4 linked regions of the Homo sapiens genome follow. The gene in region 2 interacts genetically with the main gene of each other region. Each region holds a gene or a part of one and is shown on either strand. Other genes may lie near its edges.

Region 1 (7,862 bases), on a different chromosome or scaffold from region 2:
AGGAGAAGGAGGCCTTGGGGGATAAGGGCAATGGGAGAAAAGTGTTTTAGGCAAAGGAAACAGCATAAACAAGCTCCAAGGAGAGAGACAGAACGTGGCCTACAAGTGCACAGGCAAAGCTTGGGCACAGAATTTGAGAAAATAGCATGAGATGAGGCTACAAAAGGGTGCCTGATCATGAAAGATTAGGCGAGCCACGTAAAGGAGTTTGGACTTGATCCCAAGGGTCCTGGGAGGCAGTGAAGGGTTTTAAACTAGAGACAGATATGATCACATCTATGTCTCAGAAAGGTTTCTCTGGCTAGGGGGTAGAGGAAAGGATTGTTTAATCTCTTTCTTCTTAAAAAGTACCCTCTTGGGCATAATAAAAACTATAGGCTCAAACATGGAATGCATCAGAGATAAGAAGATAAAGCACTTACCCTTAAGAAGCTTGGTCTAATGGGCAGGGCAGAAACCAGTCCCAAAATAGTGTAAAAAGCAAAATGCTCAGCCAGGCCTGGTGGCTCACGCCTGTAATCCCAGCACTTTGGGAGGCTGAGGCGGGCAGATCATTTGAGGTCAGGAGTTCAAGACTAGCCTGGCCAACATGGTGAAACCCCATCTCTACTAAAAATACACACAAAAAAAATTAGCTGGGTGTGGTGGCGCATGCCTGTAATCCCAGCTACTCGGGAGGCTGAGGCAGCAGAATCGCTTGAACCTGAGAGATAGAGGTTGCAGTGAGCTGAGATTGTGTGCCACTGCACTCCAGCCTGGGCGACAGAGCGAGACCCTGTCTCAAGAAAAACAAAACAAAACAAAATAAAACAAAACAAAACTCTACCAGCACCAGGAGTAGATAAGAAGGAGCTCCTAACTCTGCTGTGGGTGCGGGAGAAAACTTGAAAGAAGTGACTTCTGAGCTGAACCTTGAAACATGAGTTCACAAAGTAGATTCAGGGAGTTGGGGGTAGAGTGGGGAATGGGACTAGGTATACAGATAGAGAAAACGTACTCAAGGCAGAGGAAAAAATACAAGTAAAGAAACGGCACTATAAGCTGATTTATATTATAAGAAAGCATCAACACCAAAAAAAGTCAGAATGAAGTGTGTATTTCATGCCAAAAAAATCAAAAGGAGAACAAGTAATTTCCACATTACTTTTAGATGTAATGCTACAACGAGTTAAAAACAAACAAACAGGCTGGGCGCGGTGGCTCACGCCTATAATCCCAGCTCTCAGGGAGGCAGAGGCGGGAGGATAGCTTGAGCCCAGGAGTTCGAGACCTGCCTGAGCAATATAGTGAGACCCCGTTCTCCACAAAAAGGAAGAAACAAACAAACAAACAAAGCAACAACAATACTGACACCTAGAGTAGTCAAATTTATAGAGACAAAAAGTAAAATGGTAGTTGCCAGGGGTTGGGAAGAGAGGGAATGGGGAGTTGTTTAATGAACATGTTTTTATTATTATTATTATTTTTTAAAGATAGGGTCTTGCTCTGTATCCCAGGCTGGAGAGCAGTGGTGCAATCACAGCTCATTGCAGCCTTGAGCTCCTGGTCTCAAGCAATCCTCCTGCCTCAGCCTCCCAAGCAGCTGGAACTACAGGCGTGTGCCACCACGCCTGGCTGTTTAATGGATGTAGAGTTTCGGTTTTGCAAGATGAAGAGTTCTGGAGGTTGACTGTGCAACAATGTAAATGTACTTAACACTACGGAACCATACACTAAAAATGGTTAAGATGGTAAACTGTATGTGTATTTTATCACAATTTTTTAAAATCTAAAAAAAACAAAAAACAAAACAAAAAAAAAAACTGAAACAAACCCCAAAACACTGGACCAGAAGTCAGGAAATCTGAATTCTATTCCCAACTATCGGCGTGATCCTAGGCAACAGCCCATCTGTACTTCAGGTTCCCAATTAAGGTCATAAAAGTTATAAAATGGGCTGGGTGCAGTGGTTCATGCCTGTAATCCCAGCACTTTATGAGGCCGAGGCGGGCAGATCACCTGAGGTTGGAAGTTGGAGACCGGCCTGACCAACATGGAGAAACCCCGTCTCTACTAAAAATACAAAATTAACAGGGTGTGGTGGCACATGCCTATAATCCCAGCTACTCAGGAGGCTGAGGCAGGAGAATTGCTTGAACCCGGGAGGTGGAGGTTGCAGTGAGCCAAGATTGCACCATTGCATTCCAGCCTGGGCAACAAAAGTGAAACTCCGTCTCCAAAAAAAAAAAAAAAAAAAAAAAATTATAAAATAATCTTTAAGGTTCCTTTGGTTCTGATTGTTTGTGATACCATATCATCTCATTTTTTTCTATATTATTTCATCCTTGTATAAAGCCACTAACTTGAGATGGTGATATTCTGGGCATAGATCTTTTCCCCTCAGACCAGTAGTTTACCACTGGCAATTACTTCCCTCTTGGCTTAAAGGTAACTACTGGATTCTACATACTTCTCTACAGCGCCTTTCCCCTTCTCCTCCCCACAAAGCCCTCTTCTAGGTCAGAAGGTTACTGGCACATGAGCAATAAAGGCTAGATAACTTTTGATGTTATTTGCTAATATTTGTAATTATTTAAAACCTCTTCTAGAATAAACTGATGTTATTCATTTTACTATTAGAGCAGATTCATATGGAAAGACAGATAAGAAATGAATATGGGTTATTTGATTTTTATATTATATACAGTAATATATATACACATAAAGATTAAAATAAGTACTTTAGTACATATACTAAATAAAGGGCTTTATCTTACACTACATAATTTTTTCAAAGAAAGAAAAAAAGATACTGATTCGGTACTATTTTTACAAGACCTTTTACTAGGGCATTCTCTGTTACACAGCCATTGGCAAAAAAGTTTAGCACTAAATCTAGGATTTCTCAGTAAGTGACAATGTTATATTTTCTCTAATAACCCTCACCTGCTTCACTTCAGTTAGCCCCATCCTTATTTTATATAAAATTAAAAGATTCTTAGTGCCAGTCTTTCCTCATCAGCTTTTGGGAAGACAAATAGGCAGCAGTCCCAGCATGAGTAGAGAGCCTGTATCAATTACTTGCCTCTCAATTTAGTGAGACTGAGGAGAGTTCAAATGAATTCCAACCCTTAGGCTCTCCTTCCCACACCATCCTAGTTTGTAGTCTCAGTGATAATATGAGCGCCCATTGACTCCTGTTAGATAGAGAAAAGACACTCTCCCTAATGCACAGTCTCTTGATCTCTTCCTATTACAACCTGCTAAACCCTTCTGCTGCAGATACATTAAGGTTTGAAAACTAACAATTTATGGCCAAACAATTAAGCGCGTGTTTAAGATGCAGGAAAAAAATGACACAATTGCTTGTGTTTCTGTTATAGTAGAAAAATTCCAGCCCGGCCAACTTGGCGAAACCCTGTCTCTACTGAAAATACAAAAAATTAGCCGGGCGTGGTGGCACATGCCTGTAATTCCAGCTACTCGGGAGGGTGAGGCAGGAGAATCGCTTGAGCTGGGGAGGCGGAGGTTGCAGTGAGCCAAGATCGTGCCATTGCACTCCAGCCTGGGCGACAGAGTGAGACTCCGTCTTAAAACAAATAAAAAATTAAAAAAAGAAAGAAAGATGACAATTAAAGGGTTTATTTTACCACCACCAAGATAAGTGGAGCTTGTGTAAGTTTTAAATAAATGCATCTATAAGGAAAAAATTGGAAGCTTTCCATTGATTCTTACATCAATGAATATAATTTTAAATATCATTAATGTTCATACTGTTTCATAACTTATACGATTATCTGAATAGTGTTTCAAAAGCACTTGAAATATCTTAAAGATCAAAAGGATCTTAAATGCGTCAAAAATAAGTAAACGTTTAAGTTTTTTTAGCAGTAGGAGAATTCTCATCTTTTTGGAGGGAGGATGGTCAAGAGCTTAGAGAACTATTACAGGTAAAGTACCCAAAAGTGTACTCAGTTTGAAACTTCTTCTTTAACCTTCGATGTTGTTGGCAAGCACTACAGTGTCCATCATCCTTAAAGGAGAGATACATATATTTTGAGACAAGATCTTGCTCAGTTGCCCAGGCCGAAGTGTAGTGGCATGATCATGGCTCACTGCAGCCTTGACCTCCCTGGCTCAGGTGATCTTCCCCGCTCAGCCTCCCAAGGAGCTGGGACTACAGGCACACACCACCATGCCCGGCTAATTTTTGTATTTTTTGTAGAGACAGTTTCATTATGTTGTCCAGGCTGGTAGAACTCATATTTTTAATCTTTTTTCCATGATTAATGTAATGATATTTGGAAATGAGGCCTTTGGGAAGTAATTAGGTTTAGATGAGGTCATGAAGATGAGACCCCCCCATGATGGGATTAGTGTTCCTAAAAGTAGAGGAAAAGAGACCAGAGTACTTGCTCCATCTTGTCCCATCCAATCCCAACCCATGCCATGTGAGGACACAGTGAGAAGGCAGCCATCTGCAAGGTAGGAAGAGGGCCCTCATCAATAACCAAATCAGCCAGCACCTTGATTTTGGAGCCTCCAAAACTGTCAGAAATAAGTCTGTTGTTTAAGACACCTAGTCTATGGAATTTTATTATAGCAGCTTGAGCAGACTAACACACAGCATTAAGGTTACGTTTAAAAAATGTCCATATCCACCTGTCCCAGCCTCCCAAAGTGCTGGGATTACAGGTATGAGCCACCACATCTGGCCCTTTCTTGCTTTTTAAAAACAGCAATGCATACCTTTCTGTAATGAAGTCTGACTTGACTCATCTTGCATACTGTCTTTCTGAGCATTCACTAGATCTGCAACCAGAACCTCAAGTGATTTATAGTTGCTCCCAGATATCTGAATTTTTTCCTCCATTATTTTCTTAATGTCCTTGAAACTGAACCCCATTCGTATAGCTTCTTGTACCATAGGATTTTGGAAGATGGTATCATCTGAAATAAAAATTGGTGAGGAAAAAGAACATAGAATTTAAACAATTATTTTCATTATCACAACTCAATAGCAAAATATAGTTAAAATGAAAAAATTAAGGAGCAAGCGAAAGAATAAAAACAAACCAGCAAAGCAAAGCTGCTTTGGGAAGATTTTTTGAAGTATTCAGGCACTGAAAAATCACTTTCAGAATCTTACAATTAATTGTAAATGCAATGAGTATGTATTTTGTAGTGTTTGAAACGATGCAAGGTAAAATAGGCAAGAAAAAGGTTAAGTGCTTCAAAAATCTGAACTGTTTTGAATCTAGCTGTACTCATTAACAATTAACCTAAGTTACTTAAAGAGTGGATGTTGTTACTGAGTCACTAGCAATTATTTGGGGAAAATGATGGGAAATCAGGGAAGTCCCAGTCTATAACCTTGAATGTGTCAATTTCCTAGCTCTCAAACTTCGTTTCTGTAGCAGAGCGGGTAGGACTGAATAAAGCAAGAAAGTCAATGGAAACTTGTTTTTATGATACTTAAAGTAGGAACACAGCATGTGTAGGGAAGTGCTAGGAGAGGACACTTATACCCTCTGACTCATCAATTCCACTCTTGGGTATTAAAAATGAGTGTATATCTCTGCCAAAGATATGCACAAGAGTATTCATAGTAGTGTTATTTATAATAGCCCCAAACTGGAAACAACTCAAATGTCCATCATCAGGTGAACAGATACATAAATTGTGGTATATTCATACGCTACACAGCAAGAAAAAAAAAAAAAACTATTGCCACAGACAATATGGATGGATCTCATAGATATAATGAGCAAAACATAATCATAATTCATCATTATGACACAAAAGAGTACCTACTGCATGAGTCCATTTATAAGAACTTCAAAACTAATCTATGGTAATAAACAAAATTAATCTATGGTAATAGAAGCCAGAATATAACTTGGGGGTGGGTACTGATGGGGAAGGAGCATGAAAGAACTTTCTAGGGTTGTGGGAATGTTCTATATCTTAATCTGGGGGATAGTCACACAGATAAATATATATATTTTAACATATACATTTTAATATATATTTAACACATATTTAATATATATTTTAACATATATATGTTAAAATTCATCAAGTAGAAAACTTACGATTAGGGTACTTTAAGCACTTTATGTGTGTATGTGTGCGTGTGTATATATATACAAAATCATATATATATACAAAATCATATATATACAAAATCATATATATATACAAAATCATATATATATACAAAATCATATATATATACACAATCATATATATATAAAATCATATATATATAAAATCATATATATATATATATATATATTTTTTTTTTTTTTTTTTTTTTTTTTGAGACGTAGTCTCGCTCTGTCACCCAGGCCGGAGTGTAATGGCGCGTCTCGGCTCACTGCAACCTCCACCTCCCAGGTTCAAGCAATTCTCTTGCCTCAGCCTCTCGAGTAGCTGGGATTACAGGCATGCACCACCACGCCTGGCTAATTTTTTTGTATATTTAGTAGAGATGGGGTTTCACTATATTGGCCAGGCTGCTCTCGAACTCCTGACCTCGTGATCCACCTGCCTCAACTTCCCAAAGTGCTGGGATTACAGGCGTGAGCCACTGCGCCCGGCTACTGTATGTATATTATAGCTCAATAAATGTTTTTTGAAAGAGAGGAGGCTGGGTGCAGTGGCTCACACCTGTAATCCCAGCACTTTGGGGAGGCCAAGGGGGATTCCTTGAGGCCTGGAGTTTGAAACCACCCTGGTCAACAAAGTGTGACCCTATCTATATTAAAAAATAAAAATAAAAGATAAGGCTGGGCATGGTGGCCCACGTCTGTAGTCCCAGCATTTCGGGAGGCTAAGACGGGCAGATCGCTTGAGCCTAGGAGTTCAAAACCCCGTCTCTGCAAAAAATACCAAAAAATAAAAAAAAAAATTACCCGGGCATAGTGGTGGGCGCCTGTAGTCCCGGCTACTCAGGAGGCTGAGGCAGGAGAATGGCGTGACCCCCGGAGGTGGAGGTTGCGGTGAGCCGAGATCGCGCCACTGCACTCCAGCCTCGGTGACGGAGCGAGACTCCGTCTCAGAAAAACAAAAAAACAAAACAAACAAAAACAAACAAACAAAAAGAAAAACTCTGTTGGCAGGTTATAATACAGACAAAAGACCAGTTAGGAGACTACTACAATTGTCCAGTTGAAAAACAAGGAAGGGCCTGAACTAGAGCAGAATAAGTGGGAAAGTCTGAAGCAACATTAAAAAGGTGGAATCCATCAAATTTGATGATTAATTAAATGTAAAAGGATTACAGAGAGCAAAGAGCTTAGGAACAACATAAATTACTGGGCAACCTTGTGAACTGTGGTACTATTAACCAATACAGGAGAAAAAAGTGCAGGATTAGATTCAGTCTGAGTGGTTTTTAGAGATGCATTCTAGGTGGAAATGTCCAGAGGGCAACTAGACATTGCTCTTTCCTGCTTCTCCTATCTTTGACTTGTTTTTATTTTCAGTTTGTTTTGTTGCTCCATTACTTGTGCCCACCTAATTAGATGTTGGTGGCTCCCTTCCATTCCCTCATCGACCCTTCTGAAAAATGGTCTTTCCAGCTGGGCACAGTGGCTCACGCCTGTAATCCCACCACTTTGGGAGGCTGAGGTGGATCACCTGAGGTCAGGAGTTCAAGACCAGCCTGGCCAACATGGCGAAACCCTGTCTCTACTAAAAATACAAAAATTAGCCGGGCGCAGTGGCATGTGCCTGTAGTCCCAGCTACTGGGGAGGCTGATGCAGGAGAATCGCTTGAACCCGGGAGTCGGTGGTTGCAGTGAGCCAAGATCGCACTACTGCACTCCAGCCTGGGTGACAGAGCGAGGCTCCGTCTCCGGAAAAAAAAAAAAAGTCTT
Region 2 (7,671 bases):
CTGTGTGCAGTGCACTGTGTGATGATCTACAGAGATTAAATAAGCCGAGGTCTCCGCTTCCAGTCACTTGGGAGAGACGCACAAGGTAAATTACCCAAATAGAAGGCAAACTGCCCAGGGCTGTAATTAACATACAATATGCGCCGAGAGGGAAAGGTTAATGCTAACTCCGGTCCTAAGTACAAAGATCATTGGGAGTCAGGGGTGCACTCTCATTAGGGTACAGCATGGGTGGGTGGAGAGAGTAAAAACCAGAACAAATCAAGGTTCAGCAGTTGGAAGTCAGCCTTAGGGAGAAAAGGGGCGGAGACTGACTGGGCCAGAACAGGGATTGGGACAGAAAAAGAGGGTGGGGCCAGTGGGCTCCACCTACCCGCTCCGGCCCTTCCCACCACCCCCCACCCCATCTACTTTCTACAGTCTGTGGAGACAGGTGAGCGACGAACTTCTGAGACAGGTGTGGGTGCGAGGGTCGGGAGGGTCATGGGATTGGGACCGAGGTGTGAGGAGGGAATCTGCAATTCCTTGCTACACAGAGCGCTGGCAACTTCTGACAGGCTGTTTCTGGGGTATGGGCTGCCTCGGGTTGTTGCTGTTACAAGGAAAGAAAAGAGTTCCCCTGCCCACCGCCTCCCAGCCACTGGGCTACCTCCTGGCAGGAAATTTGCAAACTGAGTTTAACAAGTTAGGATCAGCAGAGGGTAGAGGAGGGCCCTGGCAGATGTGGGGTCTAGAAGAGGACAGGAGTTATCAGGGCCTCCGGCCATTGTGCTGGGCCTTTGCCTGTACAATTGTTTCTCAAGCAGTTGTGTCCCTGTGGCTTTGGTGCGCCTGTGTGCACTTTCTCCCTCCACCTGGAGCATGGGCTAACACCGGAGGAAAGGAAAAGACAGAGTCAGACAGGGTAAGTGGGGCTCCCTCCCCTCTTCTCTCTAACGGGGCTGGATTGAGGGCCTCTGGCTGGGGAGGTGGGGGTGGAGATCCAGTAGGAGCAATAACAGAGGAAGGGCAGGGCCTGCCCCATCACCTGAATTCCAGAGATGCCAGTGTGCACTGAAGCCCCAGGCAGGGCGTGCCCAGGACCGGATCCTGGATGGTGGTAAGGGACAAAGCTGGAAGGGAGACTACAGGGAAGGAGAAAGGAAAGAAGGCAGAGCCATGACACAGTCAACTTACAGAATGGCTGGGAGTCAAAGCTCCTGGGCTGGTTTCCTGGCTATTCCACACACTCCAAGACATAGAGAGAATTTCGGAACTGGAGGGGACTCTACAGATGATTTATTTGAGATTGAAGAACCTAGAAACCAAACAAAGAAATATCATATGGTTACTTTGGTATCTGACACAGCCATGACACCAATTGCTAGTGTAGACACAATAGCTGTGTGTCTTTTTGCAGGAGCCTGGGGAGGGGCCATGGTGCCAATGCACTTACTGGGGAGACTGGAGAAGCCGCTTCTCCTCCTGTGCTGCGCCTCCTTCCTACTGGGGCTGGCTTTGCTGGGCATAAAGACGGACATCACCCCCGTTGCTTATTTCTTTCTCACATTGGGTGGCTTCTTCTTGTTTGCCTATCTCCTGGTCCGGTTTCTGGAATGGGGGCTTCGGTCCCAGCTCCAATCAATGCAGACTGAGAGCCCAGGGCCCTCAGGCAATGCACGGTGAGTTAAGGGTGGGCATCGTAAGAGGAATACACCTTGGGCCCATCCTCCCTCTCTCCCTGTAGTCTCTGAGGCAGAGAGTCTCTGGTTTCCTGTCATTGGCATCAGCGGGAGGAGGGGTCAGAGGCCAACAGAGGATCTTTTGCCCACAGCAGACAAAAAAAAGGGAAAAAGGGCTTCTTTCATGGAAGCCACCAATGGCCTTATTTCTCTTCCCTCAGGGACAATGAAGCCTTTGAAGTGCCAGTCTATGAAGAGGCCGTGGTGGGACTAGAATCCCAGTGCCGCCCCCAAGAGTTGGACCAACCACCCCCCTACAGCACTGTTGTGATACCCCCAGCACCTGAGGAGGAACAACCTAGCCATCCAGAGGGGTCCAGGAGAGCCAAACTGGAACAGAGGCGAATGGCCTCAGAGGGGTCCATGGCCCAGGAAGGAAGCCCTGGAAGAGCTCCAATCAACCTTCGGCTTCGGGGACCACGGGCTGTGTCCACTGCTCCTGATCTGCAGAGCTTGGCGGCAGTCCCCACATTAGAGCCTCTGACTCCACCCCCTGCCTATGATGTCTGCTTTGGTCACCCTGATGATGATAGTGTTTTTTATGAGGACAACTGGGCACCCCCTTAAATGACTCTCCCAAGATTTCTCTTCTCTCCACACCAGACCTCGTTCATTTGACTAACATTTTCCAGCGCCTACTATGTGTCAGAAACAAGTGTTTCTGCCTGGACATCATAAATGGGGACTTGGACCCTGAGGAGAGTCAGGCCACGGTAAGCCCTTCCCAGCTGAGATATGGGTGGCATAATTTGAGTCTTCTGGCAACATTTGGTGACCTACCCCATATCCAATATTTCCAGCGTTAGATTGAGGATGAGGTAGGGAGGTGATCCAGAGAAGGCGGAGAAGGAAGAAGTAACCTCTGAGTGGCGGCTATTGCTTCTGTTCCAGGTGCTGTTCGAGCTGTTAGAACCCTTAGGCTTGACAGCTTTGTGAGTTATTATTGAAAAATGAGGATTCCAAGAGTCAGAGGAGTTTGATAATGTGCACGAGGGCACACTGCTAGTAAATAACATTAAAATAACTGGAATGAACTCCTGATCCCAAAGCCTATTGTGTTTTCAACACAAGGTAATAGGAAGCCAAGCAACTTGCATGTCTCCCAATCCCTGTCTAGGGACAGCTGCTGGTGCAGGATGGAAGACTTCCTATAAACAGAATGGGCGACCAATTGTGTCTACAGAGGGGGTGGGCTGAGCATGGGCACGCATGTCCCCAGCCTCCTGGACGAGCAAAGTCAGTCAAAGCGCTGGTGATCCCTGCTCCGCGTGCGTAGCAGTGTCTGTGCCTCTCCTGCCCAGGGGCTAGAGAGCAGTCTCCAGTGCAGGGTCCCCATCCTATCTGAAAACAGTGGAGTCAGTGACCCCAGGTGGAGGGACTTCCAGTTTTAACAATGGGTTGGTATGAAGGCCAGAAGGAGTGAAACATGTGAACTTTCTGGCGAGGAGACTCCCTCTTGAATCATCCATATGTAGCCCCGGGGTCACTTGCGAAGAGTCTCTAACAGCTTCTGCCTCACTCCTAAGCTCTGACCGCTAGGCTTTCACCCCAGCCGCCGGTCCTGATTCCTGAGATCCCAATATTGAGCACCAGGTTTCCTGGAATTGTGTGCTGCGGCTGTGATGTAGGTTTCGGTCGCTGGAAGCTGCTAAACCATAGCTGACGCCCCCTCCTAAGCCAGCCTTCCTTCCCCGCGCGGGCATCTGTCCAGGGCCTTGTCGCGCTCTCAGTCTCCTTCGCAGCCTGGCCCCAACCGTTCAACTTCAATAAAGCAAAACTCCAGCCACGCCCGTCTCCGTGAAGTTATCGCCATAGGCCGGCCAGGGGGCGCGAGAGGCACCGGGGTGATTTCCGCGGGAATCGATAACCAATCGGATTCCCAGGCCGAACGGAGCACACCCGCCCGCCCTCGCTCTTTCCCCGCCCTTTGCCCCGCCCCGCTCCTTCCCCTCCTTTTGTCTGTCCGCCGAGCACCCCACTTCACCCCATTGGACCGCGCGGCCGCCGCTAGAGCTCTGCGCCTGCGCACGCACCGGGCCGGGGACTGGGTGGCCTGGTGTGTGGGCGCGGCAGGGCGCAGGCGCAGGCGCAGTGTGCGTCCGCGTCTGAGGGGAGGGATGTGGGGGAAGCGACGGCCCCCGGTTTGTTTGGGCTGTGGGCGGTGCGCAGCGGAGAGCCCGGGAAAAGCGGGAAATGGCGGCGCCGAGCGCGGGGTCTTGGTCCACCTTCCAGCACAAGGAGCTGATGGCCGCTGACAGGGGACGCAGGTAAGTAGGGAACGGTCTTAGGGCTCCTTAGGGGAGCCCAGGGAAGGGGAGCGTGGCCCCCAGGCGTGCGGCCCTGCAGCCCCCTCCCCTCGGAGCCCCGGAAAGCAGCCGTGTCCGCGCTTCCTGCCAAGGGTGGGACGCCCGCCCGAGCCGCTCCGAGCCTGACTCCGCGCAAGGGCCCGCGGGCGGACCTCTTGGCCTTGTCTCTCGTGGGAAAAGACTGCCCCAGCCTCCCTTTGTTCAACCCACGAGGGTTCTAAAGGGGAGGTCTTTGCAGTCCTGCCCGCTCTTGGGTTCTCTTGAAGATTCTTCATCCTTTCCTCTGGCTCCCTTATGAGGGAAACTATAAAAAGACCATACTCTGTCTCCTTAAAAATCGACGAGACCTTCTGCAGACCTCGGTGCTCTGCCTGATGTGCATTTGATTTGTATCGATTGTATCATGATCTGCATGGCTTTGCATAGAATGACCAGATTTTCAAAGAAGTCAATACAGGGTTTGGAAATTGAGTACTTTTGGCAGAACAAGGGGGTTCCTGTGGCTCCGAGTGTCCATGCCTCTGCCCCGGTCATTCCATTTCATGGCAGTCATCACCCAGGAGAACATTGTAATGCCTCCTGCTCGAGACTGAAGATTAAGGTCTTCGCAAAGGGAACCTGCAGAAGGACACAGAATTAAGACGTAGGAACTCCGTGGTGCCCTTCGCCCCTCCTCCCCTTCCAGTTGTGTCCTGAAATTCTAAATGATTGGAAACTTTTATAATGTTCACGTTTAAGACTCTCATACTACAGAGTAGAGGAAGGAGCGGGTGTGCAGAGGGGGTGATGCTTCAGATTAAAACTAAAGAGTTGATTGAAAATTCAAGTCTGGAACTCGAGAGAGTTAAGAACTATAAGTCAGTAAGTTGCAAGTATGGGTGAGATTGTCTAGGGAAAGGCTCTTTGAAGGGGCGTCCCTAATGGAATATCAATATTAAGGGCAGGCCAAAGGCCCTCTAAAGAAAACAGGAACTGGGTAGGCAGAGAGAAGACTCCCAAAGAATGCTGTCATGGAAACCAGAGGAAGAGAACGATTTAAGGAGCGAATACTACTGGTAAACTAATGGAAGAAATCTGCTGCACCACTGGTTAGTATCCCAGCTGCAGTGTTATATGTGATCGTTATTACTGCTTTGACGTATTCGAAAGTGATTCATTCTTAAATAGGTTTTTTTATTTGTATAGCTCTTTTTCTTGTAGCCAGTTTTTCCTGAAAGTCTTGGGTAATGGAAATATTACAGTAAAAAGAAGAAAAAATGGAGTTTCAGACTCATTTTTCCAAACCTCAGATTCATTGGCTGCTTCCAACCCACTTCATCTGTTTTAGGATCCCACCTGCTATCTTAGTTCTCCCAGTTCTTCCAGGACCCAGCTCTTCCCTCTTCTAACTATAAATCTCTCACCCAATAGCATCTGCAAGCCAAGTGCATCCATTCCATAGATGTGTGGTATTTCACTGACTCTAAGATACACATTTTTTCCCTCCCTTTTTTTTTTTTTTTTTTTTTTTGGACGGAGTCTTTGCTGTGTCACCCAGGCTGGAGTGCAGTGGAATGATCTCAGCTCACTGCAACCTCCATCTCCAAGGTTCAAGCGATTCTCCTGTCTCAGCCTCCCGAGTAGCTAGGACTACAGGCATGCAGCACCACACTCGGCTAATTTTTTGTATTTTTAGTAGAGACAGGGTTTCACCATGTTGGCCAGGCTGGTCTTGAACTCCTGACCTCAGGTGATCTGCCCACCTTAGCCTCCCAAAGTGCAGGGATTACAGGCATGAGCCACCGTGCCCGGCCTCCCCTCATGTTTTAACACCTTAGAAATCAGAATGCATTTTAGAGTAGGTTTTTAAGTTATAAATGGAAGTTATTGTATTTTCACTGCTATCAGGTGCCACCCTTCCTGCTGTTACATATGTGGAAAATGTGACGGGGCAGGCTAGAGAACTCTGGATTTATGTAAACTAGGCATGTAGATGACATATTGGCAATAGGATTATTTTAGTTTATAAGCAGAAGCTGATCTCTTTGCAAGCCTGTAGCAAAATTAGCTGGAGGTGACAGCACATGCCTGTAGTCCCAACTACTTGGGAGGCTGAGGCAGGTGGATCGCTTGAGTCCAGGAGTTCTGGGCTATAGTGTGCTATGCCAGTCACGTGTCCACATTAAGTTCAGCATCAGTGTGGTGATGTCCTGGGAGTCAGGGTCCACCAGGTTGCCTAAGGAAGGGTGAACCCGCCCAGGTCAAAAATGGAGCAAGTCAAAACTCCTGTGCTGCTCTGTAATGGGATCATACCTGTGAATAGCCACTGCACTCCAGCCTGGGTGGCACAGTGAGACTCTTTTAAAGTAAATAGATAAATACCTATCCACTGTGACTTTCTGTCATACTTTCTGCTTATCCACATCTTAACAGGATTCGCCATTTTGTCACTGGAACTTAAAAGTTTTAAAAAACATGTAATTATATGTTTATATCACTAGTGAAAGAGAGTTAGTGTCTGCCTCATTTATTTTCTGTTAAAGCCATTGGCTTGAGTTTTTACCATAGTGTTTTAACCCTCATCTAAGATCATTATAAACTTACATCACTTTCACCAGCTTAGATAATGTGAGATGTTTTCTGAAATAATTCTCTTTATTAAAATTGGTCTATCAGAGAAGTATTCCTTCTCATAAATATGTGTACTTGGGGGTATTGTTTTGCTTAAGACAGATATTTCCCTCCTCTAGTCAGACCATTCATCTCAGATGATCTCAGCTGAACATAAACCATAAGGAATTAGACATTATTTTCTTATGATCAATGTGTTCCTGCTTAGTACATCTTTGCTTTAACCAGATTTAAGAAATATGCATAATCTTGGTTATTGTAAGTCTTATTCTTTTTGTTCTTCCTATTCATGCCTCTTCCACTCCACTCTTCTGTGTCAAATTGTGACTTGACAGCCTTTCCTTCTACCGTTTATCTGTAGGATATTGGGAGTGTGTGGCATGCATCCTCATCATCAGGAAACTCTAAAAAAGAACCGAGTGGTGCTAGCCAAACAGCTGTTGTTGAGCGAATTGTTAGAACATCTTCTGGAGAAGGACATCATCACCTTGGAAATGAGGGAGCTCATCCAGGTATCTGGAGGCAAAAGAGAGAAGATAAATTGATCATGGGGTGGGAATAGAGCATGACAAAATATGGAAAGGGTGTCGTATCTTTCTTCCTTTTTTTTTTTTTTTTTTTTGAGACAGAGTCTCTGTCTCCCAGGCTGGAGTACAATGGCGCGATCTTGGCTCACTGCAGCCTCTGCCTCCCAGGTTCAAGTGATTCTCCTGCCTCAGCCTCCCAAGTAGCTGGGACTACAGGCAGGTGCCACCATGCCTGGCTAATTTTTTGGATTTTTAGTAGAGACAGGGTTTCACTGTGTTAGCCAGGAGGGTGTCGATCTCCTGACCTCATGATCCACCTGCCTCGGCCTCCCAAAGTGCTGGGATTACAGGTGTGAGCCACCACACCCAGCTGGATGTTGTACCTTTCTAAAGAAATGGAAATGCCCTTCTACCGTAGAGCATTTGAGAGAAATGATATATAACTCAAGAATAACAGAAAGGACTTCACCCATACATACACTTTTCCTGTAAAAAGAATTCTTGGAT
Region 3 (7,862 bases), on a different chromosome or scaffold from region 2:
GGTGCCAGGTTGAATTTAATAGAAGAAATATTTTATTAATAAGGAAGTCTCAATGAGAAAGGACACCTTGATTTTGTAAGACCTAGAGTCACACATAGAGGATACTATTAGGATATTTGGAACAATACTAATTTGACTCAAGTTGAAGTACTCATTAAGTTGGCAAACTGGTAGTGGGAAGCCAAGCTTTGAACAGCAAAGCTGCAGGTTAACCACCTTAACCCAATCCATGCAAGTCTACAGATTACCTTTGGGAAAAGGTGGGGTGCAAACAACAGTCGCAAACTAAGACAGCATCAGCAGTAGCATTTAGGACCACTTAGGGCAATGAAAGAAGGCAAAAGAGAAACCTACATGATTCGAGGGGAAAGACATATTATGGTTCAACCTCAATTTTTCTCTTGAGATCCAGATCCTTATGTCTAAGGCTTACTGGGCATTTCCACTTGGATATCCTACTGGAATGTCCAAAATGAAATTCATCACATGTACGCCACAAAGCAGTAACTGTTGTTATCTTTCCTTTCCCTCTGGAAGACAGTATCATTTTTTGAGGCAGCCAGGATGGCACTTGAGTCCTGATTCTTTCCCTCCCTCATTCCTCACATTCGACCTGCTGTCAGTCCTTTGATTCTACACGTGCAGTGTGCCCACATCTGTCCTGTCCTTTCTGTTCCAGGTGCTTCAGACCTCATACCTGGTCTCCCCCGTCCAGGCTCAGTCACTGTCAATCTTCCTCCCACGCACACATCCTGCCTTGTCTGAGAACCTTTGCAACATCCTTTCAACATCCCTGGTACAGTTAAACGCAGCCATCCTTCAGTAACCTCAGGGGATTGGCTCTAGGAACCCCCAGTGGATACCAAAATCTGAAGATGCTCAAGTCCCTGATATTAAATGAGTAGTACTTGCATATGCACATCCTCCTATATACTTTATTTTATTTATTTGTTTGTTTATTTATTTATTTTTTGAGACAGAGTCTCGCTCTGTCCCCTAGGCTGGAGTGCAGTGACACGATCTCGGCTCACTGCAACCTCCGCCTCCTGGGTTCAAGCAATTCTCCTGCCTCAGCCTCCCGAGTAGCTGGGATTACAGGCGCCCACCACCACACCTGGCTAATTTTTCTATTTTTAGTAGAGAAAGGGTTTCACCATGTTGGCCAGGCTGGACTTGAACTCCTGACTTCAAGTGATCCACCCACCTTGAGCTCCCACAGTGCTGGGATTACAGGCCTAAGCCACTGTGCCTGCCCTACCCCATATATTTTTGATCCAAAGTTGGTTGAATCCATGGATGTGGAACCCAAAGATAGGGAGGGCTGTCTATACAAGTTTCACAACTTAGTATGCAGTGGTAAGTTCTCAAAACTATGGATTTATCTCAGGAGAGTTCTCCATGCCCCAGTCAAATCAGACTCTCCACAATTCCCCAAACACACCTCCCGCATTCATGCCTGCTTTGACGCCTCCAGTTTCCACTACCTGAAAGACCCTCTCCCCGTATCGCCTGCCTGTTCTCTAAAACTTGTCTCAACATTATCTCCGGCATGAAACTCTTCAGATACCACTGTAGCTGGGTTGGGCCTCTCTGTCTACTACACATTGTCCAGGATTACAGTGATTTGTATCCTTGTCTTGGTCTCCTACTGATTGGTAAGTTCCTTGAAGGCAAAAGTTATCTTAGACATTTTTTCGCTTAACTAAAACACCTAGCATAGAGCTTTGCATGGTGTAGGGCCTCAATAAATGTTTTTTTCAATGAAACAAGTTAGTGTGCATGTTTTCCTAAATAACCAGATTCTAAAACCCCTCTCCATGACCATCACTACCCCGGTTCCTGGGAACCCAGGGTTAAGTTTTGTGGACAATTGCTCATTTCCCTCAATTAGGACTTCTTCAAATCATTTTCTTCTTATACTATCACTTTAATGTTTAGTAAGTGGCTTTGTCTCCCTGTTCTTATAATTTTGTTATAAAATACCTCAAAACCTCTCTGTGTGTCTTCAGTGTGTGTGTTTTTAAAGATGCTGGCAGGAATCCATAAAGGATATGGCTAGGAGATAGCCCTGAAATTTTACATCCAGAAATGCCAATGCTGCCATCCTTTATGGACTCGCTTTTTTTTTTTCAAGAAGATAAATCAATATTTAAAGCTGATGATATAATTTGTACTTAATTTTATTCCTATTTTAATTGTAAATCAGATATCAATATATCTGAGATATAGCATTGAACTAAGAAGACTAAGTTTATGTGTCTCATGTTCTTTTAGAAAATTCTAATGCAGCTGAGAGGAATATTTGGCTGCAATTCAATTTCAGAGTTAATATAGAGATATAGCATTCATCATGTTGTAAAGCAGAAAAAATATCATCCTGGTTATCTGCTAAGGAGAGCTGGAAAAAGTCAAGAAGAGACAGCCTGCAACACTGATCCTTTGTTTGGTGCTTCAAGTATTAAAATTGGTAAACTCACCATACTCTGTTGCAGCTTAACTGTCTTTTCGACAGTTAAAAATAAGGAAATATGGTAACTGGATCTGTCACAAGAAAAGATGTATTGGTCTCAATGGAGAAAACCTCCCCTGAAAAATTAAAGCTTCACTTGACACAGTGGGTTCTCGGGTTGTTTTTGGGAGACATGATAATGAGCAGAGTGGAGTCAGTCATCAGTTTCTGACTCATTACATGGAAGCCCCAGAGAGCTGATTATTAACTAAAAATGGAATACGCTTCTATCCCTGAAGTTGTGAAGGCAAAACAAGAAGCAGAATGGAAACACAAATTTCCCCATTGACGCATGTGGCCCAAACGCGATGCTCAAGGGCAGGTGTCTTCCACAGTTAACCTGCTCATGGAATGTGGTTGATCGCCCCAGAAAATCACCCAAGTCACTCTCAGTATATTGCTACAAATGGCCATACCAGTATGTCAGGGAGATTCCCTTTCTCACATGTTTAAAAGGGCGTTTGGGGAAGTAGTCCTTACCCTAAGCTATTTTAGTTTAGTTAGTCAAACATTTATTGAAGTCTCAGGTATAACCCCACTATAATCTTGCACTAGAGGAATCAAAGTAAGTACAAATTTTGCCAGCAGATACTATCTTTTCTCTGCACAGGTTAAAGTTTATAATCACTAGAGGAAAAGGATAGTGTCTGGTCACAGAATTTTGACCTGCCCAGCTGCCTGCAGCAAGTTTGGGGTGAGGGTTATCCTCTCACTTTGATTAGACTCCCCACTTCTGCTCCCTTTTGCTAGTATCTAAGCGCATTACGGTTTTCTTCAGGTAAATCCTACCCATCACTAATTGGAAGTTAACAAGGAGCTACACCTGAGAGGTCCCTCACCGGTGGAATGATAAGGCAGGTAGGGGATGGTCACAGGGGTGGTGGCACCTATGAGAAAGTCCCATGGCTTGGAAGAGAGAGGAATAATCATTCAATCCTTATTCACACTGAAGGACAGATGGGTGTATCTTTTGTCTGGCAAATGGAGGGCAGAGAAATAGTGCTATAGCATATACAGAATTGGGCATATATAAGAACAACAAGTGACAATCTATAAAAATATGTTTTTAAGTGAAAACAGCTTTGTTGGCATTTTGAAAGTTTTACAGTCTCCATTTAAACGAACAGACCACAAGCCCAAAAAAGTCCGAAGGCAAATGCCAGTGTTACAATGGACTGTGAATTTCTGTAACTAGCATCGTAGAAGTGTCTTGATAAATAGAACAGTAATATAACCTCAAACCAAAACAAAACAGAAGCTTTTTTTTCCCCTGCTCAAAGGAAGAGCCCCCGCTCTGGTTCAAAACCTACTTGTATTTTTTGGCATACAAGAGTTATTTAAGAAAGATAGTTCTTCAAATTACCCTGTTCCAGTCAGTCTAATCGGAGCCTTGATTGTCTTTTACTTAAAAAGAATTAATGAAATGCTTTAGAAATTGTAGACTGGTGTTTATTAAGTCTTCTTAGTATGCATAAATAGTGCTTAGTGGGTTAATATTTAACAAGGGAACTCCCCCTGCCTTTCAGTTCTCTTAAGCATATGTCTACGTTACACAGTATTTTTTAAAGTATCTACATTTTGGCCCTGTTTAAATTAGGCCTAATGCACACATGAACAGCCATATGGTCAGAAATAACGTTCTTAGACCAAGGCTGAAGTACATGCAAAATAACTTATAGTTATTTGCTTTTTTCCTCTAAGTCTCTGAGTCTAGGATCATGCTTATCAGGCTGTATGATAACTACGAGTTTATTAAGATGCCTGCAACACTAGCCTGTGAGTTTATCCAGGGCAGAAGCAAAGCTCTCCTTGCCGTGCCTCCAACCTAACCCAAGGCAGGACTCATGTAAGACTGGCAATCACATCTGTGGAATAACTGTCAGTCCTTGGATGATTTTCATCATTAATCCTGCTTAGACATCAAACATTAAGGTTGATTAAGCCAAACCAAGAGGGATGAAAGAGAAAATTCACAGTGGAGTAAATTCACTGAGTGGTCTCCTACATGTGGTTGACAGAAAGGATGACCAGATTGACAAGTTACTGTTATACCTGAATAAGGTGATATTAGATTACCTTAAAAAGGTTGAACAGAACCTTTGAATCTCAAATACAATATATCTCTGGGGGAAAAAGAAAACGTTCTACTTGTACACTACAAAGACAGTGTTGTTTTCTAGCACAAATGCACTTCTGCTGAGATACTGCTTTGCTAAACTACTGCTAAGACACAATGAGTGACCTTAGAAAAGGGTGCGGAGGTATGTTGGGTGGGAAGAACCACTGTTAACATGCAGCACCCACACACTCGCTCATGAGTGGGCGTATCATCCCTCCAAATAGCGCAATAGGACTGGGAACAGAGATAAGAAAAAACAACAAGAATTTTGCTTGCCTTTTTTTTATTTTTAATTTATGGCTTTCTGTTACCTGGTATGCTGTGTGGCCTGATGACATTTAAGTAATCTGAAATGTACCAGTTCAATCAAAGATTGCTAAAAAGGGCAATCCATTCTTATTAGAAAGTACAGCTGAAAGTAACAGAATGCGCAAAAGAAAGCCATGTTTTCAATGGACGTTAAATAGCAACAAAACAGAAAAGAGAATTCAGTTAACTATAAAATTTTATGAATGTCCAGAAACAATCACACCACAGCACATGACTGAAAACTCTATGAGAAATAGTGTGTTTTTCTCTACTACATAAATTATTGAAAGGGGTCATGTGATTCTTGTAGGCAGAAAGATGCACTTTCCCAAGGAAAGTTCATCATGAAATATATTATTTAAGACTAGATCATCTTCAAGCTATTTTTAATCCTATCGTCTTGCTGCCAAAATTGGCCATAAGCAGCCAATCCTCAGACACTAGAAAAATGATGCTCTTTCATGTAATTTGTACACTGGCATGAGAATGGTATTGCTTTCCAGTTAATCAAATGTTTTGCTGGATGTGGACTGCCTTGAGAAAGGAAAAACTGCTTGCTGACTAATGAAAAGGCAGCTGAACTCTACCGGGTGTGGAGAAGTTCCTGTCTTCCTAAACCACCAACACCAAAAAACCAAAAAATAAGTCGGATTACCATCTTGTCAACAGAATAAAGCCAATCTCCTACAATCTCTTGTCTGAATCATCTCATTCTTCTAGTGGCTCCTATCTCACTCTCTCCTAAGACATGAAGCTGAATGTCGTCACAGTTCCCAGTTTAGAGGGTCACTCTCCATCACCTGCCCAAAACTCAATCCCTTGCCTGCAAGAGTCCCTTTGTCTTAAAGAAGCTGCAAGGTCACTAAAGTCATTTACAGAATTTAAACTGTGTTATGAGGGGATAAAATAATAACTAACAGAGCTATTAAAAGAGCTAATTCTCTTGCCTTTAATTGAAGAAAAGCTATCTTACTTTTTAATGGGACCAGTGATGCCAATATAAACTATATAACTACTACGAAAAATATTCATGAGAAGACTGGGCTTATAGTTGATCTACCTGCTTGCTATCTCTCCTTCATCCAATTTATGTCTTCCTAAAGTCAGATCACAATAGTGGACACCTGGGAAATACTCGGTATTCCAAGTAACACTATAGATCTTTAAGGCCACTGGAAGGGGACAATGCAGAATCCATCCCAGGTAGCAACTCTTCCTAAAAGATGCCACCAGGAACCAAGGATGGTAGCCAGCATCGCTAACTTTAACGTGCACACAAACCACATATTCTGACTCAGTAGCTCTGGGGTGGGAGCTGAGCTTTAGCATCTCTACAAAGCTCCGGGGGATGCATGTGCTACTGTCTATAAGCCACACTGAGCAGCAAGGTATCCACATTTTCTAGAATTGCTTCTCTCTCACTGCTTCCTCTGTCCTGCCTCTCTCTGGATGCCACACAATGCCTTATTCAGACCTAGGAATAAATCCACACTCCACTCTACAGCCAATTACTTCTTTAGTCTTTATTTAATTTGTAGTCTTCTGGGACAATCTATCAGAGGCTGATCATTCCAAGGACCTGATTTATCCATGTTATGGAACACAAAAGTCAAACAGATTTCCTCAGCCTCACAAGGTTCCAATTTTCTACGAGCAGCAGCAAAGAAAAAGAAATGACTTGCAGTCTAAAGCCTGGAGTATTCAGTGTAGTATTCAGGAGATGGGCTAATCCACGGAGCCCTGGGGACAGTGCAGATTATTGTCACATGCCAAGAAAATATGCTAGCTCTCTTCTGAAGCTTTACCATTAAGACTACCTTACACTATAAAATACAACATATTATTAGAGATGTAACCCCAATTGGTGTAAATGTGAAGAAAATCTGTCTGTATGCCAAATGCCTAAAATGACTTTTAGATTAATAATGCACATTTGAAATGATAGGCAAATCATTCATCATTCTCAAACACTACCACTTTTATTCCAAAGTGTCCTATGAGTGCATTTCCTGGTATATATATATATTTTTTCTCTAAATTCCTTTGTTTTCCTATATAGTCACCATCTATGCATTGTTCTGAAAGCTATTACATATTTTACCATCAACCATCTGTGCTTCTACATGATTTATTTTTACTAGAAGCAGTTTTGTCAAAAAATTTTTATCATGTTCTATGGTATGTCATTGTGGTTTGGCATCATAAAATGTAGCCTCTACATTTATCAACCTCAGATACCTGTTGACCACAAAGATAGGTCTACTATGAAAACTCTGTTTCACAAAAAGAAAAAAGTGAGCCTTTACTTAAAAAGAAACTTCAGTTACATGAGAGGGTAACACACTGAAATTCAGCAACAAATATCAAGGTTGTATCTTAATTTCTGTCATAAACATGTGTCTCTGTTTCCCACATTTTTATTAACTTATTTGATAGACAGATACCAGTTACCACCTTGGATTTATTTCAAGTAGAAAGAAAATTTGTAAGTGTGAATTTTTCACAAAAATGTGAAATAGTAAAACTATTAAATCAGTTTTACTTTGGTTTAAAAGGATCCTTTGGGAATCTGGAAGTCCCAACCCCTTTAGTTATAGTGATTAAAAATCAAACCACCTACTTAACCAAATATTTAACAAAAATATTCTTTTCACCCTTTAGCAAATTCTTCCAGAATTACTAAAGATCTGATAATGTGAGATCTCAACAAACAAACAATTCAAGAAGAGGATTTAAATTTTAGAAATTTAAATTGGGGCATTTTAGTTAATCTTACTTTTAAACACCAAACAGTGGCATCAATATTTTGTCAACTTTGGTCAAATAAGATCAGATGTTCACATCAATCATCTACTTTTCTTGGCCTTTTCTCTATTTGGCCTCCTAGTATGAGCACACTTTGTAAAATGTAATAAAAACATGTGG
Region 4 (7,773 bases), on a different chromosome or scaffold from region 2:
CTGTACAGGAGAGGAAGGAATGCTACACAGAGGCCAAGAAGAATCTGGACTGGCCTTGCTGGGTTGGCTAATTTAAAAATTTTTTTGTAGAGACAGGGTCTCACTTTGTTGCCCAGGCTGATCTTGAACTCCTGACCTTAAGCAACCCATCCCCCACCCGCAAAGTATTGAGATTACAGGGTGTGAACTGCCACTTTGTTTTTCTTTTGTTATAGGAATGTCAGTCACAGAACCTTCTGATGGGTGAGGAAAGGCATCACACCTTTCCCCCACACCCTACAGCAGCTAGAGCCGTGCTTATGTCTGTCTCTTCCACTAGAATGAATGCTTGTAAAGGCAAAGGTTTTGTTTGAAGAAGTCCCCAGTGCCCAGGACTATGTCTGTGTAGAGCAGAGCTCAGTAAACACTTGCCAAGTGGCTGTGTCTCCCACTAGAATGTCAGCTCCTGAGGGCAGAGACTGTGTCTGTCCTGTTCACATGCAGCCCCAGTGCCCAGCACACAGCATGTACCCAGTAAAACCCTGTCACCGTACAGGTGGATAAATTCAGGCCCAGAAGGAAGGAAGGACTTGTCCAAGGCCCTCCCCTGAGGGCAGCAGAGCCAGGACCAGTACCCAGCTCTCCAGCGGCCCCTCCTTTCCCCATCCCGGAGCACACAAGAGCCCAGGCTCTTTGTTCACTGAGTAAACACAGTTTATTACTGAACTGCACTTTCACCTTCACACAGACTATTTCAAAGAGCTGGAACAAGTGTGGGGTGGGGGTTGGGGGAGGGGCAGATGCCCCTCAGGAGCCAGGACCCTCGGCCAGCTTCCCTGGACCAGGGCAGGGGAGGGAGCATCAGGCCGTCCAATCTCCGGGCACCAGCTCTCCACGTGCACGCGCACTGCAAGCCAGCAGCTCCTCACACATAAATACAGACACGCTTAACAAAAATAGTATATCATCTTCACAAGGAATAAAAACTAGTCTCAAATATGTACAGCAGAGAGCCCGGGGTGGCTGGGACCCCTGGGGATGAGACAGGCCAAGGGTGGAGCAGAAGAGAGAGGGAGGCCTGAAGAGCTCCTGGCCAGGCCACTCTGGCCTTGGCAGCCTGGCTGCCCAGGCTGGACAGGCATGGGGCACAGATCTGCCTGGCCAGGCAGGACTGGCCCTTCTAGTCAGCCCTACCCCACCCCATGCAGCAGGCTCTCCTTCCTGCCCTTCCTGCCTGAGGTAGGGAAGACCCTGGGGCTCCCATAGCTGTTCCTGATAGCTCCCTTTCACCTCAGGGCTGAGTCCCCTGAACCCACCATGAGGAGCAGCCCAAGGCAAAGATGCCACAGGCTGCTCTTGTAGGAAGTGAGGCAGCTGAGGCCATAAACAGCTCTGGGGCATCTGTCTTGGGCCCAGTTGGTCCCTCAGTATGGTCATGGGAGCCAGGGAGGGGAAGGGACTAGGGTGGTGCTGAACTGCAAGGGCCACCCTAGCTTTGGCATGGGGTGCTTCCTGTAGCTATAGCCCCCTCCCTCCTGGGTGGGGCTGGCCTCTAGCCAGAGGCTTCTGGAGGACATTTGGACTGGGAGTGAGGACTCTAGCCAGTCCAGAGGTGAGGAGGGAGTCCTGGTCCTTGCATCTTTATCCCAAGCAGCCTGAATCCCTAGTCAAAAGTGGCCCCTAAATGGCTCTTAGGGGGTAGGGATGGAAGGAAAGGGAACCCAGGTTAGTGTGGGGAGAGTGGGGGGAAAATGATCAATTCTGAGGCCACAAACATCAAAACAAAGGCAATCTAGTCTCCTTTCTGGGGAAGAGGTTCTGAAAACTTTCAAGCTCCCTGGCAGAAAAACATTTTCAGGGAGGCTAAGGGGTAAGGGTTGCACCAATCAGGTAGGGCCCTCCTGCCCCCAGCCACAAACCCTTCCATACCTGCCAGCCTCCTTTGGACAGATTTTGTGGAAATTTTGTGAATTCTGAGGCCAAGGGAACTGAGGTGTGGGGGTCTCACAGAAGTGTGATAAATTCTAGAAAACTAGCTGCAAGGGACCAGATCTGGGCCCAACCCTGTGATGGGCAGGTGGGCATGGGCTGCATGTAGTGGTTCTCCTGGTGGCAATGGCGGCTGGACGGAGGATGTGGTGGAGCAGAGAAGGGGGTGGGAGGGTAGAGTGGATGGTCAGTGTCTGGTCATTTCCGACTGAAGAGTGAGCCCAGCAGAACCACGCCGGCCACAGTCATGCCCGTCAGGAACCAGCGGTTGAAGCGTTCCTGGCCCTTTCGGCTCTCGGCTGCTGCATTGTTCCCATAGAGTTCCACAAAAGTATCCTGCAGGGAGAGAGAAGGAAGGTGCAGTTTTAGTCCTCAGAGAGTGATGTAGGTGGGTGGGGAAAGGGGCCATCTGCATGCTATGGCCTTGGTGATGTGAAAAACTGTAGCCATCTGTGCCCACTCTGGGCCAGGTAAAGGGCTAAGGGTGGTCCTCTTTCTTGACCCTCCATTGGTGATAATCAAACCATGTTACTGCTGAGAAACAGGTAGAGAGGAGGAAAGTGCCCTGTCTGAGGTAAGTCAAGAAGTAGCACTTACTCCAGAATCCAAGGTGGGAACGAGATGGGCAGGGTCAGGGAACTGATGGAAGCCAGGTGGCTGGAGCAGAGTGCAGGAGAGGAGGGCATGGGGGAGATGATGGTGCAGGGGTGAGCAAGAGCCAGACCATACGTGGCCTGGAAGCCGCAAGGAGCCTAGAGTTGAGTCTGAGGGTAGTGTGGAGTGTGGAGCCACTAGGCCTCAGATTTTCTACTGCTGCACCAGAGGGAGGGATAAGGAAGCCCAGGGCTAAATCCCCAGGGTCATTTGAGGCCAATTCAGGGGTAGAATGGGTCCTGGGACTTCAGCCAGAGGCTCCTCCCTCTGGAGGGAGCCTCTGGTGGGCAGGTTGGTGACAAGAAGAGCAGGGCAGAGGAGAGAGGGTAACAATGATGCAGGACTGACAGGCCTCCATCACGGGGTCTGTGAGGCCTTGTCCCGGACATCCTCCACTGCAGGGGGTGTGACTCTGGGCCCAGGAGGTTGTGATCAACAGCCCTCTGCCCTGAATCTAAGTCAGAAGGGAAGCACATGACAGGGGGAAGGAGGAGCTGTGGGCTAAATTACCCAGCCCAGGGTGCAGCAGCCTGTGGGGCAGGGAGAAGGACGCTTAGAACATAACTTTTATGAGTAAGCGTAGTACCCAATTTGTCCTTTAATCCTCCCAACAATTCTGCAATGCAGGCTGTCTCTCCCCATTTACAGGCCAAGAAGCTGTGCCTCTGAGGGTCCAGGGACTGGATCAAGGTCACCCAGCTGTGTCAGTGGTGGAGCCAGAATCTAAAACTGGCATCTGGCACCTAGAAATATGTAAGAAAGAAGTAAGTTCCAGGCTGGGTGCGGTGGCTCATGCCTATAATCCCAGCACTTTGGGAGGCTGAGGTGGGTGGATTGCCTGAGGTCAGGAGTTCGAGACCAGCCTGGCCAACATGGTGAAACCCTGTCTCTACTAAAAATACAAAAATTAGCCGGGTGTGGTGGCACGCACCTGTAATCCCAGTTACTCAGGAGGCTGAGGCACGAGAATTGTTTGAACCCGGGAGACGGAGGTTGCAGTGAGCAGAAATCGCACCACAGCACTCCAGTCTGGGTGACAGAGACTCCGTTCAAAAAAAAAAAAGGAAGTACCATAGTACCGTGTGTGTGTGTGTGTGTGTGTGTGTGTGTAAAATGAATGAGTTACTGGCTGGTTCTTGCCTCTCTACCAAGACCTCTGCCACACTGGGCCTACATTTCCAACCAGTCCCAAATGGCCGAGTGGCTGCTCCCTCAAGACAGGCATGCCATCTCCAGTTGGCCTCAGGTCTCACCTATCAATTTGCTCACTTGTGACCCCTGCCGTGGCCCACTTCCAGTCTTGACAACCCCCTCAGTCCATGCTCCACACAGAGCTTTCTAAGAACACTGGAAGCCCTCCAGCAGCATTCTCCTGCACTTAGAAGGGCAGCATCATTTATTTTTGTATCCCTGGTACCTAGCAAAATGCCATGTGCACTGAGCTGCTAATTTGACTGAAGGAATCCTCAACATTAAGGCAGTAGAGAGCAGTGACCCATGAATCTCAGCCCTTGCAGAAGCACACTCCATTCAGTCACTCCAAGTTCTCAACCTTCCCAGGGCTTCCATCACACCTGAAATAAAGTCCCCACTCCTTACTCTGGCCAGCAAGGTCTAGTGGGATCTGGCTCCAACACTTTCTGGCCTCCTCCCCACCCCTGTCCCCTGAACTTCACTCCAGTCCCACTGGCCTCCTTGCTGTTCCTCCAACGTCTCCTGCCGCAGGAGTCTGCTGTTCCTGCTTGCCTGGAGCACCTGACCCCAGGTCGTCGCCTGCCTCACTCCCTCATTTCACAACCATGACTCCCCTCAAATGTCACCTCCTAGGGGAGGCCTTCCCTGACTGCCTTGTCTAAAACAGTACACCACCCCCGTCTCTCTCTGCCTGTCCCCTTACCTTCCTTGATTTTTCTTCTCAGTTTTTTTTTTTTTTGAGACACAGTTTTATTCTGTCCCCCAGGCTGGAGTGCAGTGGCACAAACTGGGCTCACAGCAACCTTTGCTTCCTGGGTACAAGCGATTCTCCTGAGTAGCTGGGATTACAGACATGTGCCACCATGCCCAGCTAATTTTTATATTTTTAGTAGAGATAAGGTTTTGCCATATTGGCCAGGCTGGTCTCAAACTCCTGACCTCAAGTGATCCGCCCACGGCCTCCCAAAGTGCTGGGATTACAGGCACGAGCCACCATATCTGGCCTTTTTTTTTTTTTTTTTGGAGACAGAGTTTTACCCTTGTTGCCCAGGCTGGAGTACAATGGCGCGATCTCAGCTCACTGCAACCTCCGCCTCCCAGGTTCAAGCGATTCTCCTGCCTCAGCCTCCCAAGTAGCTGGGATTACAGGCGCGTGCCACCACACCTGGCTAATTTTGTATTTTTAGTAGAGACGGGGTTTCTCCACGTTGGGTCAGGCTGGTTTCAAACTCCTGACCTCAGGTGATCTGCTCACCTCGGCCTCCCAAAGTGCTGGGATTACAGGCATGAGCCACCATGCCCAGCCACCATTTTTTTTTTCTTGTTTTTAAAAGATGTGCCCAGACTGACTTTGAACTCCTGGACTCAAGCAATCTTCCTGCCTCAGCCTCCTGATTACAGGAACTACACTACACAGAATGACCACCATGCCAGCTTTTCTTCTCAGTGCTTTATTTTTTAATTTTTAAATTTTTGTGACAGTGTCTCACTCTGTTACTCAGGTTAGACTGTAGTGGCGCAATCATGGCTCACTGCAGCCTTGACCTCCTGGGCTCAGATGATCCTCCTGCCCCAGCCTCCTGAGTAGCTGCCACACTACAGGCACACACCACCATGCCTGGCTAATATTTCTAAATTTTTTGTAGAGACAGGGTCTCACTTTGTTGCCTAGGCTGGTCTCAAACTCCTGGGCTCAAGGGATCCTTCTGCCTCAGCCTCCCAAGTGCTGAGATTACAGGCGTGAGCCACCATGCCCGGCCTCACCACCTCACCACATTTTTCCCCCATTAAGCTGTACTTCTCATAACTAGATTCTGTACTTTGTTTTTGTTGTGATGTGTCTTCCATACTAGATGTGTCTTTTTTTTTTTTTAGACGAAGACTTGCTCTGTCACCTAGGCTGGAGTGCAGTGGTGCAATCTTGGCTCACTGCAACCTCCGCCTCCCGGGTTCAAGCCATTCTCCTGCCTCAGCCCCCCGAGTAGCGCCTGCCACCACGCCTAGCTAATTTTTGTATTTTTAGTAGAGATGGGGTTTCACCATGTTAACCAGGCTGGTCTCAAACTCCTGACCTCAAGTGATCTGCCCTCTTCAGCCCCAAAGTGCTGGGATTATAGGCGTGAGCCACTGCCCTCGGCCTATACTAGATGTGTCTTGATGAGGGCAGAGGTCCTGTCTCGTTCCTATACACCCAGTGCTCAGAACAGTGTCTTGCTCTGTAAATACATGAGAATACATGAGTTAACAAATGTATTGCATGTCTACTACATGTCAGGCATTGGTATCCCATTTCATCTTCATCAGAATCCTGAGATGTAGATTTGAGCCACATTTCACAAATAAGATGCCTGATATTTAAAGCAGGGAACACTCAGCAAACAGATAGCAGAGTCGGGATCAAACTGCAAGACTGCCTAGCTTCAAAGGGAGGGCTGCTATGTCAGGACACTTCCCTGAAGTTGGAGGCTGGAGGGACCTGTCCTGTCAGTAGTGCTGAAAGGATGGATTTCCAGGAGAAGGAATGTGGGAGCAGGGTTGAGGTGGAGGATCTGGGGAAAGGAGGGCACTAGGGCCGTGGCTATGCTTCCCTGTCTCCCTCTCCATCCTAGCTAGCCTCTGCGGGTCTTGGCAGACAAAAATATTCTTACAGGAGGTTTGATTTTGTTGCTCCCAAGTACACCCAGGTGGAGTCACAAAATAGGCTTATCTGTGATGGGGGAGAGTTCCACACTATGAAGAGCATAGGAGAAGGCCCTGGTTATCCCAAGAGGCCAAATGTCTCTCAAGAAACCAGGGACACTGGGGTTGCAGCCAAAATGGGAGAGGCCTGGCTCCCTTGATGGGAACTTTCCTGAAGTAGACGGCTGGCAGCCACAGGAAATTTTCAGCTCTGGGGCTGGGTTGGAGTAAACAGGCGCTGTCCCCACAAGGGCACAAAGCATTCACTGTCCAGAAACAGTCATTCCTGGGTGGAGGGAACATTCTCATTTCAGTGCCATAGAAACATTCTCATTTCACCTGCCCCAGCTTCCACTCATGTGTTCCTGGTCATGACAACCTTCATTTCCATTTCAGCTTCTTTTCCTGGGGAAGGGGAGTAGTATTTCCAAGGGGTGTGGATTCTAAGGATTGCTTTTGCGGAGACAGCATGAGCAAAATGGGGCGTGCTGTTCCAGGGCGGGTGCTGGAGAGGCGGTGGCGTGGGTATATTTAGCCCATGGTTCACACGACACACTTGGAAATAAACAGAGCCATTTTCTCAGCAGGCGGCTGCTCTGGATAAATAAACAGGATTGCAGAGCAGCCCTGGTCTGGAAAAGCAGAGATAAGCCCCTACTGCACCTTGGGTGGCTCCCACTGGTTTTAACCAGGCTGGCATGGTAGGCAGGGGATGAGGTTTAAGAGTGGGTTGTAGGGAGGTCTCTGATGTCACAAAGGTTTCTAGGAGACCCAGGCCCAAGGGCCTGTCTGCATCCTCTGCTTGAGTTAAGAGGAAAGTGGGGTAGCTGACTTCCATGTGGGGGTTTGTAGGGCCACTGGCGACAGGCAATGGCTAATGACCTCCACAGGAGAGTCATGGATTCCTAGCCAGGTAGGCCCATGAAGTCAGCAAGGCCAACCCACCTGCCCATTCTACGTTTCCACTGCTGGTTTGTAGTAGAGCCTACACTAGAAAACTGGGTCTCCTGACTTGGCCCCTAGGAGATGCCCAGGCTAGTATCACTTTCAAGGTCCTTCTTCCAATACTTCAAGAGGCTTCAACAGTCCTGGCCACCCACTTGGAATGGCCCCACACTACATACTCCTGAGTGCTTCAGGCCCTGGTGCCTTTGCCAACACTGTCCTTTAACTGGTCACTCCATATCTTCCTCAGTTAACCAACCCCTACTAAGCCTATAGGACTCCATTTTGGAGTCCCCTCTTCCCTGCTCATCCCTCCCCAACCTCTGGGATGAA

The links.
Region 1: of CASP2 (region 2) and XIAP, changing one suppresses a phenotype caused by changing the other (phenotypic suppression), as found in Homo sapiens cells (one study listed by BioGRID).
Region 3: of CASP2 (region 2) and BCL2, changing one suppresses a phenotype caused by changing the other (phenotypic suppression), as found in Homo sapiens cells (one study listed by BioGRID).
Region 4: of CASP2 (region 2) and BCL2L1, changing one suppresses a phenotype caused by changing the other (phenotypic suppression), as found in Homo sapiens cells (one study listed by BioGRID).

What each region holds. Positions count from the first base shown.
Region 1 is NC_000023.11:123,897,560-123,905,421, reverse strand, and holds part of XIAP (E3 ubiquitin-protein ligase XIAP), read right to left. Parts: intron 4,930-7,862; coding exon 4,729-4,929; intron 1-4,728.
Region 2 is NC_000007.14:143,284,542-143,292,212, forward strand, and holds the start of CASP2 (caspase-2 isoform 1 preproprotein), read left to right. Parts: upstream 1-3,809; 5' UTR 3,810-3,914; coding exon 3,915-3,988; intron 3,989-5,046; exon of another isoform or gene 5,047-5,115; intron 5,116-6,079; exon of another isoform or gene 6,080-6,363; intron 6,364-6,998; coding exon 6,999-7,149; intron 7,150-7,671. Other genes in the region: TMEM139 (transmembrane protein 139 precursor), read left to right, coding at 1,417-1,661, 1,883-2,288. UniProt on the Homo sapiens protein: Is a regulator of the cascade of caspases responsible for apoptosis execution. Might function by either activating some proteins required for cell death or inactivating proteins necessary for cell survival.
Region 3 is NC_000018.10:63,308,908-63,316,769, forward strand, and holds part of BCL2 (apoptosis regulator Bcl-2), read right to left. Parts: intron 1-7,862. UniProt on the Homo sapiens protein: Suppresses apoptosis in a variety of cell systems including factor-dependent lymphohematopoietic and neural cells. Regulates cell death by controlling the mitochondrial membrane permeability. Appears to function in a feedback loop system with caspases.
Region 4 is NC_000020.11:31,663,783-31,671,555, forward strand, and holds the end of BCL2L1 (bcl-2-like protein 1), read right to left. Parts: intron 7,409-7,773; exon of another isoform or gene 7,323-7,408; intron 3,366-7,322; exon of another isoform or gene 3,209-3,365; intron 2,305-3,208; coding exon 2,167-2,304; 3' UTR 676-2,166; downstream 1-675. UniProt on the Homo sapiens protein: Potent inhibitor of cell death. Inhibits activation of caspases. Appears to regulate cell death by blocking the voltage-dependent anion channel (VDAC) by binding to it and preventing the release of the caspase activator, CYC1, from the mitochondrial membrane.